Regions from separate parts of the Homo sapiens genome. Here region 1 is linked to region 2. Evidence: fine-mapped expression QTL. A gene starts in region 2. The other region holds a variant in brackets. All regions are shown on one strand. Distances are from middle to middle. Region 1 overlaps POLR3A (RNA polymerase III subunit A). Region 2 holds the start of RPS24 (ribosomal protein S24).

The links.
Region 1: its variant is fine-mapped to the expression of RPS24 in whole blood (INTERVAL, PIP above 0.99).

What each region holds. Positions count from the first base shown.
Region 1 is chr10:78,002,372-78,007,371 of GRCh38, forward strand. It overlaps POLR3A (RNA polymerase III subunit A), which reads right to left. Exons shown (of 31, transcript NM_007055.4): 16 at 2,345-2,517. Among named protein-coding and RNA genes, the nearest start is that of POLR3A, 25 kb to the right of the region's middle. The variant C/T (reference allele first, on the strand shown) is at 3,081.
Region 2 is chr10:78,031,229-78,036,757 of GRCh38, forward strand. RPS24 (ribosomal protein S24) reads left to right here and starts at 2,635. Exons shown (of 6, transcript NM_033022.4): 1 at 2,635-2,676; 2 at 4,124-4,189; 3 at 4,283-4,492. The coding sequence starts at 2,674. RefSeq lists an enhancer at 2,435-2,964.

The DNA.
Region 1 (5,000 bases), 29 kb before region 2:
CAATCTAACATTTAAAGAAATTTGAAAATACTGAGGCAAGATGCCCGATTTCCGATCAGTAAATGTTTCAGAACCTTAGAGGAGCAAAATGCCCTGGCTATATGAACATGTACATCTTCTACAAGGTTCTAAAATTGGTGTATAAGGCAAACAGTTTATCTTTTTTTTGTTTTTGTTGGAGACAGGATCTCACTCTGTTGCTGAGGTTGGTGTACAATGGCATAATCACAGCTCACTGCAGCCTCAAACTCCCGGGCTCAAGTGATCCTCCTGCCCCAGACCCCTGAGTAGCTAGGACTACAGGTATATGTCCCTACCAGGCCTGGCTAATTTTTAAAATTTTTTTTGTAGAGATGGGGTCTTGCTATACTGCCCAGGTTGGACTTGAACTCCTGGCCTCAAGGGATCTTCCTGCCTTGATTATAGGCATAAGCCACCAAGCCTGGCCTAAAATTGACAGTAATAAAAACTTGAAGAATCCTTTAAATGGCCCATAAGGTAGAATGTATGGCTTTGTGTATACTACCCTACACAACAAAATATCTGTATATAAATAGCTGTGTGGACACACACATGCACCCCATACAAATATATAAGATAATATGTGGTATGTAAAAGAGAATTGCCTGTACTATTTGTAAATTTGTCTTTCTACTTTTTCTTGCCAAGCACACATCTGAATGTCTGCAAGCTAGGCATGTGATGAGGTGACTTCACAAGAATATTCCGGCTCATGAGCTCATCCACAGTTACTCCTCAACTTACAAACTAGGATGCTGAATCAGTTACAAGTCTGGTTCCATGAAAAATTGCTGCTGCCGAGGTCTCAAGTAATTTTCTAGGAGGTACCGGTGAGGGATATCCTTTTCTCTCTCTCTAAGACTCAGTAAGATTAAGAATGAGCTAATGGTAAATACCTCACAAAATTCTGGTTTCTCCCTGCTTTAGAAAATGTATTTCATTAGAAAACTTCCCAATGCTTAAAGAGCCTTTCTTCCACACTCAGGTGAGTCAAAGCTCAGTGCCACGGGTTTATCGGTGAGGCAGAAGACGGCCAGGTGAAAGCCTGGTGCACTCAGACTGCTGAGGGAGTTTCAGGTTCTCACAGGCTGGTGGTGATTCTGATTCTGACCCATGCTGGTTGAGATCTTAGCTAAAATAGTTTCAAATGAGGGGCAGCAGGCTGGGGATGTGACTATTAGACATGAATTCTCCCTCTTCCGCATCCAAGTCTCTTTCAAAGACCATACATTCAAAGAGCTGTGGTGAGGCTGGGCACGGTGGCTCATGCCTGTAATTCCAGCACTTTGGGAAGCCGAGGTGGGTGGATCACCTGAGGTCAGGAGTTCGAGACCAGGCTGGCCAACATGGCAAAACCCCGCCTCTACTAAAAATGCAAAAAAAAAATTAGCTGGGCATGGTGGTGGGCGCCTGTAATCCCAGCTACTTAGGATGTTGAGGCAGGGATAATTGCTTGCACCCAGGAGGTAGAGGTTGCAGTGAGATGAGATTGCACCACTGCACTCCAGCCTGGGCGACAAAGTGAGACTCCATCTTAAAACAAAACAACAACAAAAAAACTGGCTGGGCGTAGTGGCTTACACCTGTAATCCCAGTACTTTGGGAGGCCAAGGTGGGCAGATCACGAGGTCAGGAGATCGAGACCGTGCTGGCCAACATGGTGAAACCCTGTCTCTACTAAAAATACAAAAATTAGCTGGTCATGGTGGCATGTGCCTGTAATCCCAGCTACTTGGGAGGGTGAGGCAGGAGAATTGCTTGAACCAGGGAGTCAGACGTTGCAGTGAGCCAAGATCGTACCACTGCACTCCAGCCTGGCTGGAGTGCTTCATAAAACTATGAAAAGCGAGACTCCGTCTCAAACAAAAACAAAAACAAAAAAAACCAAACCCCCAAAAACCAAAGAGCTGTGGTGTCAGTTTCTACTTGAAGGATGCTGAAAATAGAAAAGGCAGGAGCACTCGAGTACCAGTTACAGAAGGGACCTGAGTGTGCCACCAGAACAAGAGCAGCCTCGTGTGGCCGAATGAACAGATGGCTATGTTTTCACCACCTGGATGTGAAAGTTAGGAGGGACATGAGGATCTGATGAAAGGCCCTACCCTCAGGAAACAAACAAGGACACACACAGTGAGCCCAGGGCCCCAACAGGACAGACGAGGACATACACAGTGAGCCCTGGGCCCCAACAGGACAGACGCCAATGCCTTGACTTGCCCACTCCTTTGCTACCTCTATTCATGGCTCAGCACAACCCCAGAGAGCACCACCGTAGCCACTGTGCACGGCAAGTGGCGACCCTGAACCAAAGGGCCGGGCTCACCTCCAGGGTCTCCTCAGCAGTGCAGCCAGGCTGCTGCTGCAGCTTGCCCGTGTTCAGGGCTTCGATGTACTCATCACATTTCTTGTAGCCGGCATTCAGCAACTCATACTTGGCCTTCAGCAGTCCTTGGCCAGGTGTGACATCACCGATCCCAATTGAGAAACCACGGTTAGCTGTTGAGTTGGTAGAGCAGGAAGAAAGGGCCATAAATGAGACTCAGCAAACCTACTAAATACAGTTTATGCCTGCTAGATATAGTTTGTACTATATATAAACTATGTATGTATAGTTTAAAGTATAAAAAAGTGTATATCTTCACAGAATTCATCACAATTCAATTAAATAATGGCTTTCTTTCTCAGTCATTAGGGAGTTACACAAAATGACTAGGACTCAACTGACTTCTCTCAGAGACCTTACGATCTGGTGGGGAAACACAATACCGTTTCCAACTATTATCTAAAGCAGAGTGACATTAAACACTAAAGGGTGGCCTGAGGGCTGGGTGCAGTGGCTCACGCCTATAATCCCAGCACTTTGGAAGGCTGAGGCAGGAGGCTCGCTTGATCCCAGATGTTTGTGATCAGCCTCATCTCTACAAAAACCTTAAAAAATTAGCCGGGCATGGTGGCACATGCCAGTAGTCCCAGCTACTTGGGAGGTGGAGGTTGCAATGAGCCATAATCACATCACTGCGCTCCAGCCTGGGCAACAGAGCAAGACCCTGTGTCACACA[C/T]ACAAAAAAGTATTCTCCAACTTTGATGGAACTAGGTGCCACCATTGATCCTAGCCACAATATACTGTATGTAGAAATAAAGAGAGTGAATGAGTGGCTTCTGGCTTAGCAGGATAGGAAGGTATGACCTACAAGTATCTGTAGATGAGAGGACTAATGGGCCTGGAAAGGCTCAGAAATGAGATCATTAGGTTCTGCAACTGCTGGAAATGATGAATGTGCTGGAAACAAGGAAACCTAGTGGAAAGTCTGTATAAGGAAGGCTCCAGGCCCTTATTCCTGTAGGAGATGGGAGTTCGCTCCCAGCGAAATGGAATCAGAGAGGCTCTGGGTCTGGGAATACCAGGCAGATGAAATAACTGTAAACAAGAGCACTGAGGGAAAGTCTGTATATTCCTTTTATATAAAAAAACTGAGAGGTCCATCAACCAGTCAGCTCCATTTCCAATCAGTGTTTCAGTCCTTACTCCTCAAGGACCACCAGATATTTGAGGAAAGATTTTAACATGAAAGACAAAAGACACAAATGCACAGGAAAAAGAAAGTAAAAGGATACAGAAAATTCAGGAAGCAAATATAATAAAACTATGAATAATATTCTCTCAGAGTGATCAGAGAAGATACATTCAGGGATCAAAACAAGAAAGCTTTAAAAACAAAACAGCCTGGGCATAGTGGCTCACGCCTGTAATCCCAGCACTTTGGGAGGCCGAGGTGGGCAGATCACTTGAGGTCAGGAGTTCGAGACCACCCTGGCCAACATGGTGAAACCCCGTCTCTACTAAAAACACAAAAATTAGCCGGGCATGGTGGCAGGCACCTGTAGTCCCAGTTACTCGGGAGGCTGTGGCAGGAGAATCACTTGAGCCTGGGAGGCGGAGGTTGCAGCGAGCTGAGATTGCATCACTGCACTCCAGCCTGGCGACTGAGCAAGACTCTGTCTCAAAAAAAAAAAAAAAAAAAAAAAAAAGAAACAAAAACACTACCTGTGAATAAGTATATTGAAAAATAGTATTGGAAATTAAATACATGACAGTGATAAAATTTTAAAAATCAACAGAAGTATTAAAAGATAAAGTGAATCTAGAATAAAGAAATGGCAAATGGAAAAGAAGATAATTAGATAATTAATCTAGGAGTTCTAATATGTAATTAACTGAAGTTCCAAAAAGAAAGAACAGAGAAAGTAAAAGAGAGAAAATTATTAAAGAAATAACATAAAATTTCCCGAATGGAAGGACACACAGCTGCAGATTAAATGAAATTACTCAGTGCTTAGCACAGTGAATGAAAAAAGACCCACACCAAAGGTATATTGTTGTGAACTTTCACAGTGAGAACAGAGAGGATTCTGAAAGTTTCTAAAATGAAAAAAACAATTCAAGGGCCAGGCATGGTAGCTAATGCCTGTAATCCTAGCACTTTGGGAGGTGGAGGCAGGTGGATCACTTGAGACCAGGAGTTCAAGACCAACCTGGGCAACATGGTGAGACTTCATTTCTACAAAACTTAGTTGGGCATGGTGGCACATGCCTGTAGTCCCAGCTGCTCGAGAGGCTGCGTGAGCCAAGATCACACCACTGCACTACAGCCTGGGTGACAGAGCAAGACCCTATCTTCAAAAAACAAAAAAAAATCAAATACAAAAACTGGGGAATAAGAACGACAATACCTGTTAACAACAACTCTGAAAGCAAGAAGAAAGTAGAGCAGTACCTTCAAAATTCTGAGGGAAAATAATTTTCAATCTAAAATTGTATACCCAGGCAAGTATAAGAGTGGAATAAAGTTTTGGGGGCATGCAAACATCACTTGACTCATGGCCCACTCAAAGCATGAGCAAACAAACAAACAAACAAAATAGAACAGTGAAAGCATAGTAGGCAAATATTGAGTAATCTTGGAGAACTGAATCATGGA
Region 2 (5,529 bases):
TAAAAAATAAAGTTGTGCAGGCCGGGCGCGGTGGCTCACGCCTGTAATCTCAGCACTTTGGGAGGCCGAGGTGGGCAGATCATGAGGTCAGGAATTTGAGACCAGCCTGACCAATATGGTGAAACTCCGTCTCTACTAAAAAATACAAAAATTAGCCTGGTGTGGTGGCGCATTCCTGTAATTCCAGCAACTCAGGAGGCTAAGGCAGGAGAATCGCTTAAATCCGGGAGGCGGAGGTTGCAGTGAGCCAAGATTGTGCCACTGCACTCCAGCCTGGGCAACAGAGCAAGACTCTGCCTCAAAAAAAAAAAAAAAAAAAATATATATATATATATATATAGATATAGATATAGATATATGTGTATATATACACATACGTGTATATATACACGTATATAAAGTGTGAACTTGGGAAAGTTATTTAATCTTATTGTGTGTTAGTTTCCCCATTTATAACATGGGTGAGTAATATGTATCCTATTTCTTAGAGTCAATGGGAAGGTTAAATAGCAAAATGAAGGTAAAAGTAATTAGAATGTAACAGGCACATTACAATCACTCAATAAATATTCTTCTGCCTCAGCCTCCCGAGTAGCTGGGACTACAGGTGCGCACCACCATGCCTGGCTAATTTTTGTATTTTTAGTAGAGACGGGGTTTCACCATATTGGCTAGGCTGGTCTTGAACTCCTGACCTCGTGATCTGCCTGCCTCGGCCTTCCAGAGTGCTGGGATTACAGGCATGAGCCACCGTGCCCAGCCGGCTGACTATTTTCTTAAGAATAAGGATAGTTGGTCACCTCGGGAGGCTGAGGCAGAAGAATCGCTTGAACTTGGGAGGCGGATGTTGCAGTGACCCGAGATCCCGCCACTGCACTCCAGCCTGGGTGACAGAGCGAGATGCGGTCTCAAAAAAAAAAAAAAAAACAAAAAACGAAAAAAAAGAAAAATAGTCGGCCGGGGACGGTGGCTCACGCCTATAATCCCAGCACTTTGAGAGGCCGAGGCGGGGGCGGATCACTTGCGGTCAGGAGTTGGAGACCAGCCTGGCCAACATGGTGAAACCCCGTCTCTCCTAAAAATACAAAAATTAGCTGGGCATTGTGGCGCAGGCCTGTAATTTTAGTTACTCTGGAAGCTGAGCCAGGAGAATCGCTTGAATCCGGGAGGTCGAGGTTGCAGTGAGCCGCGATGAAGCCATTGCTCTCCAACCTGGGTGACAAGAGCTAGACTCTGTCTCAGGAAAAAAAAAAAAAGAAAATAGGAAAGCTGCCCGCAAAGCCTGCACCTTGGACACCTCGTCTGCACTAACATTTGGGAAATTCTTCTTATTATTTCTCCGGAACATATATATTTACATTCTTTACATGTCTGTTTCACGTTAAAGAAAATATTTCTGGAGCAATCAATTTTTTTTTCCTTTTTTTTTTTTTTTTTCTGAGACGGAGTTTCGCTCTTATTGCCCAGGCGGAGTGCAATGGTGCGATCTCGGCCCACTGCAACCTCCGCCTCCCGGGTTCAAGCGATTCTCCTGTCTCAGCCTCCCAGATAGCTGGGATTAGAGGCATGCACCACCACGCCCGGCCAATTTTTTTTTTTTTGTAGTAGAGACGGGGTTTCGCCATTTTGCCCAGGCTGGTATCGAACTTCTGACCTCAGGTCATCTACCTGCTTCGGCCTCCCAAAGTGTTGGGATTATAGGCGTGAGCCACTGCCCCTGGCTTCCAATTTTTTTTTCCTTTTTTTTCTTTTCTTTTTTTTTTTTTTCTGAGACGGATTTTCGCTCCTGTTGCCCAGGCTGGAGTGCAATGGTGTGATCTCGGCCCACTGCAACCTTTGCTTCCCGGGTTCTGGCGATTCTCCTGCCTCAGCCTCCCGAGTAGCTGGGATTACAGGCATGAGCCACCACGCCCCGCTAATTTTGTATTTTGTATTTATTTATTTATTTATTTTCGTAGATACGTGGTTTCGCCATGTTGGCCAGGCTGGTATCGAACTCCTGACCTCAGGTGATCCGCCCGCCTTGCCCTCCCAAAGTGCTGGGATTACAGGCGTGGCCATCGCGCCCGGCCAAATATTTTTCAAAATCTAATTTTGCATAATGACCAAGATTTGCAGAAAAATACAAATTAAAGAGATCTTTTAAAGTAAAGATTCGTCATAAAAGTCACAGAAATAATACTCATGAATAATAAATTAGAATGGGCAATGTTAAGTACTTGAAATAACAAAGGTTTTAGAGTCAGGGTTTCTGCAGTTTCCCTAGCCATATAACGAGGAGACTGTTAGAGAGGATATCCTAAAATGCTTTCCAAGTTTACCCACCTCTAACTCGGAAGAAGGCAATTTAAACTAATTTGGTTTACCGGAATTCAAATACGTACAATTCAACATAATGAATTGAACTGAAATTGAACACCTGCTTGCGTAAACCTAGTCGGCTCGAGTTGTTCTGGTTCTGGATTGGTCAGTCTAGAGTTCCAGGGGTGTGGCCAAAAGTCTGTGAGGCGGGGCCGTAGGCAGCCTAAATCAGGCATCGGCGCGGTCAGCCTCGTGGCGCGCCCACGCCCCCACGCCGGCTCTTCCCGGGGTCCTTCCGTGCGCGTTGATATGATTGGCCGGCGAATCGTGGTTCTCTTTTCCTCCTTGGCTGTCTGAAGATAGATCGCCATCATGGTGAGTCTCCCTGGGCCCGTGCAGTCATCTGCCGCGTATCCGAGCCATCCGTGGTCCCTGGGTCCCAGTACTTGAGCTATAGGCACGCGAAGCCCGGTTGCTCTTCTCTGGCCGTTTCTGTCAGAGGATGGTTGTCGAGGGGCTCGGGGCTGTTGGCAGGGCGTCCGGGCTGGCGGGCTGCGCTGTAGACCCGGACACGCTGGGCTTCGGGCTCCAGCGCCTGGGCAGTGCAGGAGCTGTTGCGCTTGTTGACTTCGTGGAGCACGGTGGATGGGGGTAGGGGGCGGGCGGGATAGATGGACACTGGGAGGCACATCTCGTCTGCAGTTCCTCATTGGGCTAGGTAGGCGGCTTGCAGGTGATGGCAGTACAAGAGGTGAAGAAGGTGCGGGCAGCGCCTGGGCGAGTTGCGGCAAGTGAAACCATTCCCACGTGTAAGCTAGAAAACTTGTCAGCTGGATGGATCTTCATGTTTCATAGTGGGGAAACAGGCCCTGGAAAGAGATGTTATAAAAAGGTAGTCCTGCCCTAAGTCATGCGTTATTAGCTCCTCCAGCATCCGTTTTTAACTTTACCAGCAATCTTTTTTTTTTCTCCTTACCTTTGATCCGTTACTTTCAAGAATTGAGTACCACTGACGTGGATTTAATTTGGTGTGGTTTCTCAAAGTAAAATGGAGAAAGTCTAGGAAGTTATTTGCTGCCATGAAAGTCTCTTGCGCCTCCTTTTTGGTAAAATTGTTAGCATAAATTGCTTAATGCCCACATTTTTTGTTAGGTATTAAGTAAAGGTGCAGTTCAGTCCTTCAGAAGGGAATATCGTTTTCTCTGATCTCTGCTATGGCCATTCTAGAAGGATAGATTACATGTAGGTAGTGAGTACAAGGTTTGGGGCACATTTGTGCAAGACATGATAAACACAGTTCATTGAGTGACCTTTATATGAGCCACAGCAGTTTTTACCCCAGAGAAGTGATTCTCAACCCGGAGTGATTTTTCTCCTAAGGGAACAGTTGGCTAAGTCTGGAGACATTTTTGATTGTCACAACTGGGAAAGGTGGGAAGTGCTTCCGGCATCTAGTGGTTAGAGGGCTGGGATTTTTATAGTTATTCTAAAACATACAGTCCCCACAACATATCCATATGGAATTATCCATATGGAAATATCAGTAGTGCTGAGGTTGAGAAACCCTGCCCCAGAGATACACATAACCTAGTGAAGTAAGTTGTACAGATTCATGTGTAAAACCATTGTGTTTTCCTGGTATTTTATGTATTCCTTAGGTGTATCCTGTGAGTTTGGCCTTGCCCAGTGGGTTTTATTTACTTTAGTTCGCTACATGACTAATGGCTACAAATTGGACTGCAACATTCTAGGTCTTGGAAAATCACAGCAAGGCCAAGAAAAGTTGGAGTAGTTTTATTAACCAGAGTGTTTATGTTTTCAGAACGACACCGTAACTATCCGCACTAGAAAGTTCATGACCAACCGACTACTTCAGAGGAAACAAATGGTAAGGAAGGGCACATCAATCTTTGCTTAATTGTCCTTTACTCTAAAGATGTATTTTATCATACTGAATGCTAAACTTGATATCTCCTTTTAGGTCATTGATGTCCTTCACCCCGGGAAGGCGACAGTGCCTAAGACAGAAATTCGGGAAAAACTAGCCAAAATGTACAAGACCACACCGGATGTCATCTTTGTATTTGGATTCAGAACTCATTTTGGTGGTGGCAAGACAACTGGCTTTGGCATGATTTATGATTCCCTGGATTATGCAAAGAAAAATGAACCCAAACATAGACTTGCAAGAGTAGGTGTCTTTTCATTTGTTGATCAGCTCCTGAAGACCTATTTTTTCAATAGCGTTGTGTTGTGAGTGTGGTAAAAAGGGCAAGACCAAGCAATCTGGGATACAACTCTGAAAGGATTAAGAGAAAAAGTTATTTCATAAAATGCACAGGTGGAGTACGGGGGTTCAAAATTGAAGTCTGACATTTGAGCTGAGTTCAGAAGGGCAGCTGAAGTAGTGTTCTTGGAGATGGGCTAGGGGTAAGGATTGTTTTCCAGAGGAGAAGTAAGGGGATGTGTTTGGAAAGGTAGCCTGGCACCAAATTCACTTAGTTTGGATTAAGTCTGCATCTGGGCTTAAACCCATAGGTAGTCAGGAACCAGGAAAAGTTTTTGATTGTATACTGAGTGTCAAACACTGCAGAGTGAACTACAGCAGTGATCTGGGCAAGCTCCCCAGCTTACATTCTAGTAAACAAGTAAGCATCATCACCTCGAAGTGCTTGTTTTGTTTGTTCCTTTAACTCACTTTATCCTATCCTGTTAGATAAACCTTCCCATACGATAGCTGTGAGGGAAAATCCTGGTGATGTCATAGGTAGAGGCTGCACTTTTTTTTTTAGAGAGAGAGTTTAGCTCTGTCGCCCAGGCTGGAGTGCAGTGGTACAATCTCCTTGGCTCACTGCAACCTCCGCCTGCCAGGTTCACGCAACTCTTCTGCCTGAGCTTCCTGAGTAGCTGGGATTACAGGTGCGCACCATCATGCCTGGGTAATTTTTGTATTTTTAGTAGAGACTGGGTTTCACCATGTTGGTCAGCCTGGTCTTGAACTCCTGACCTCGTAATCCGCCCACCTCGGCCTCCCAAAATGTTGGGATTACAGGTGTGAGCCACCGTGCCCAGCTGAGGCTGCACTATTTTTAACTGACGTTCGGTCATGTTAAAGGCCTTGCTGAGGTGGTGACATTGAAGCTGAGATCCTTGTAAAGATTTGGAAGTAGTCTTTGTAAAGATACAGAAACAGTCTTGTAGGCCCCAGGAACAGCAAGTGCAAAGGTG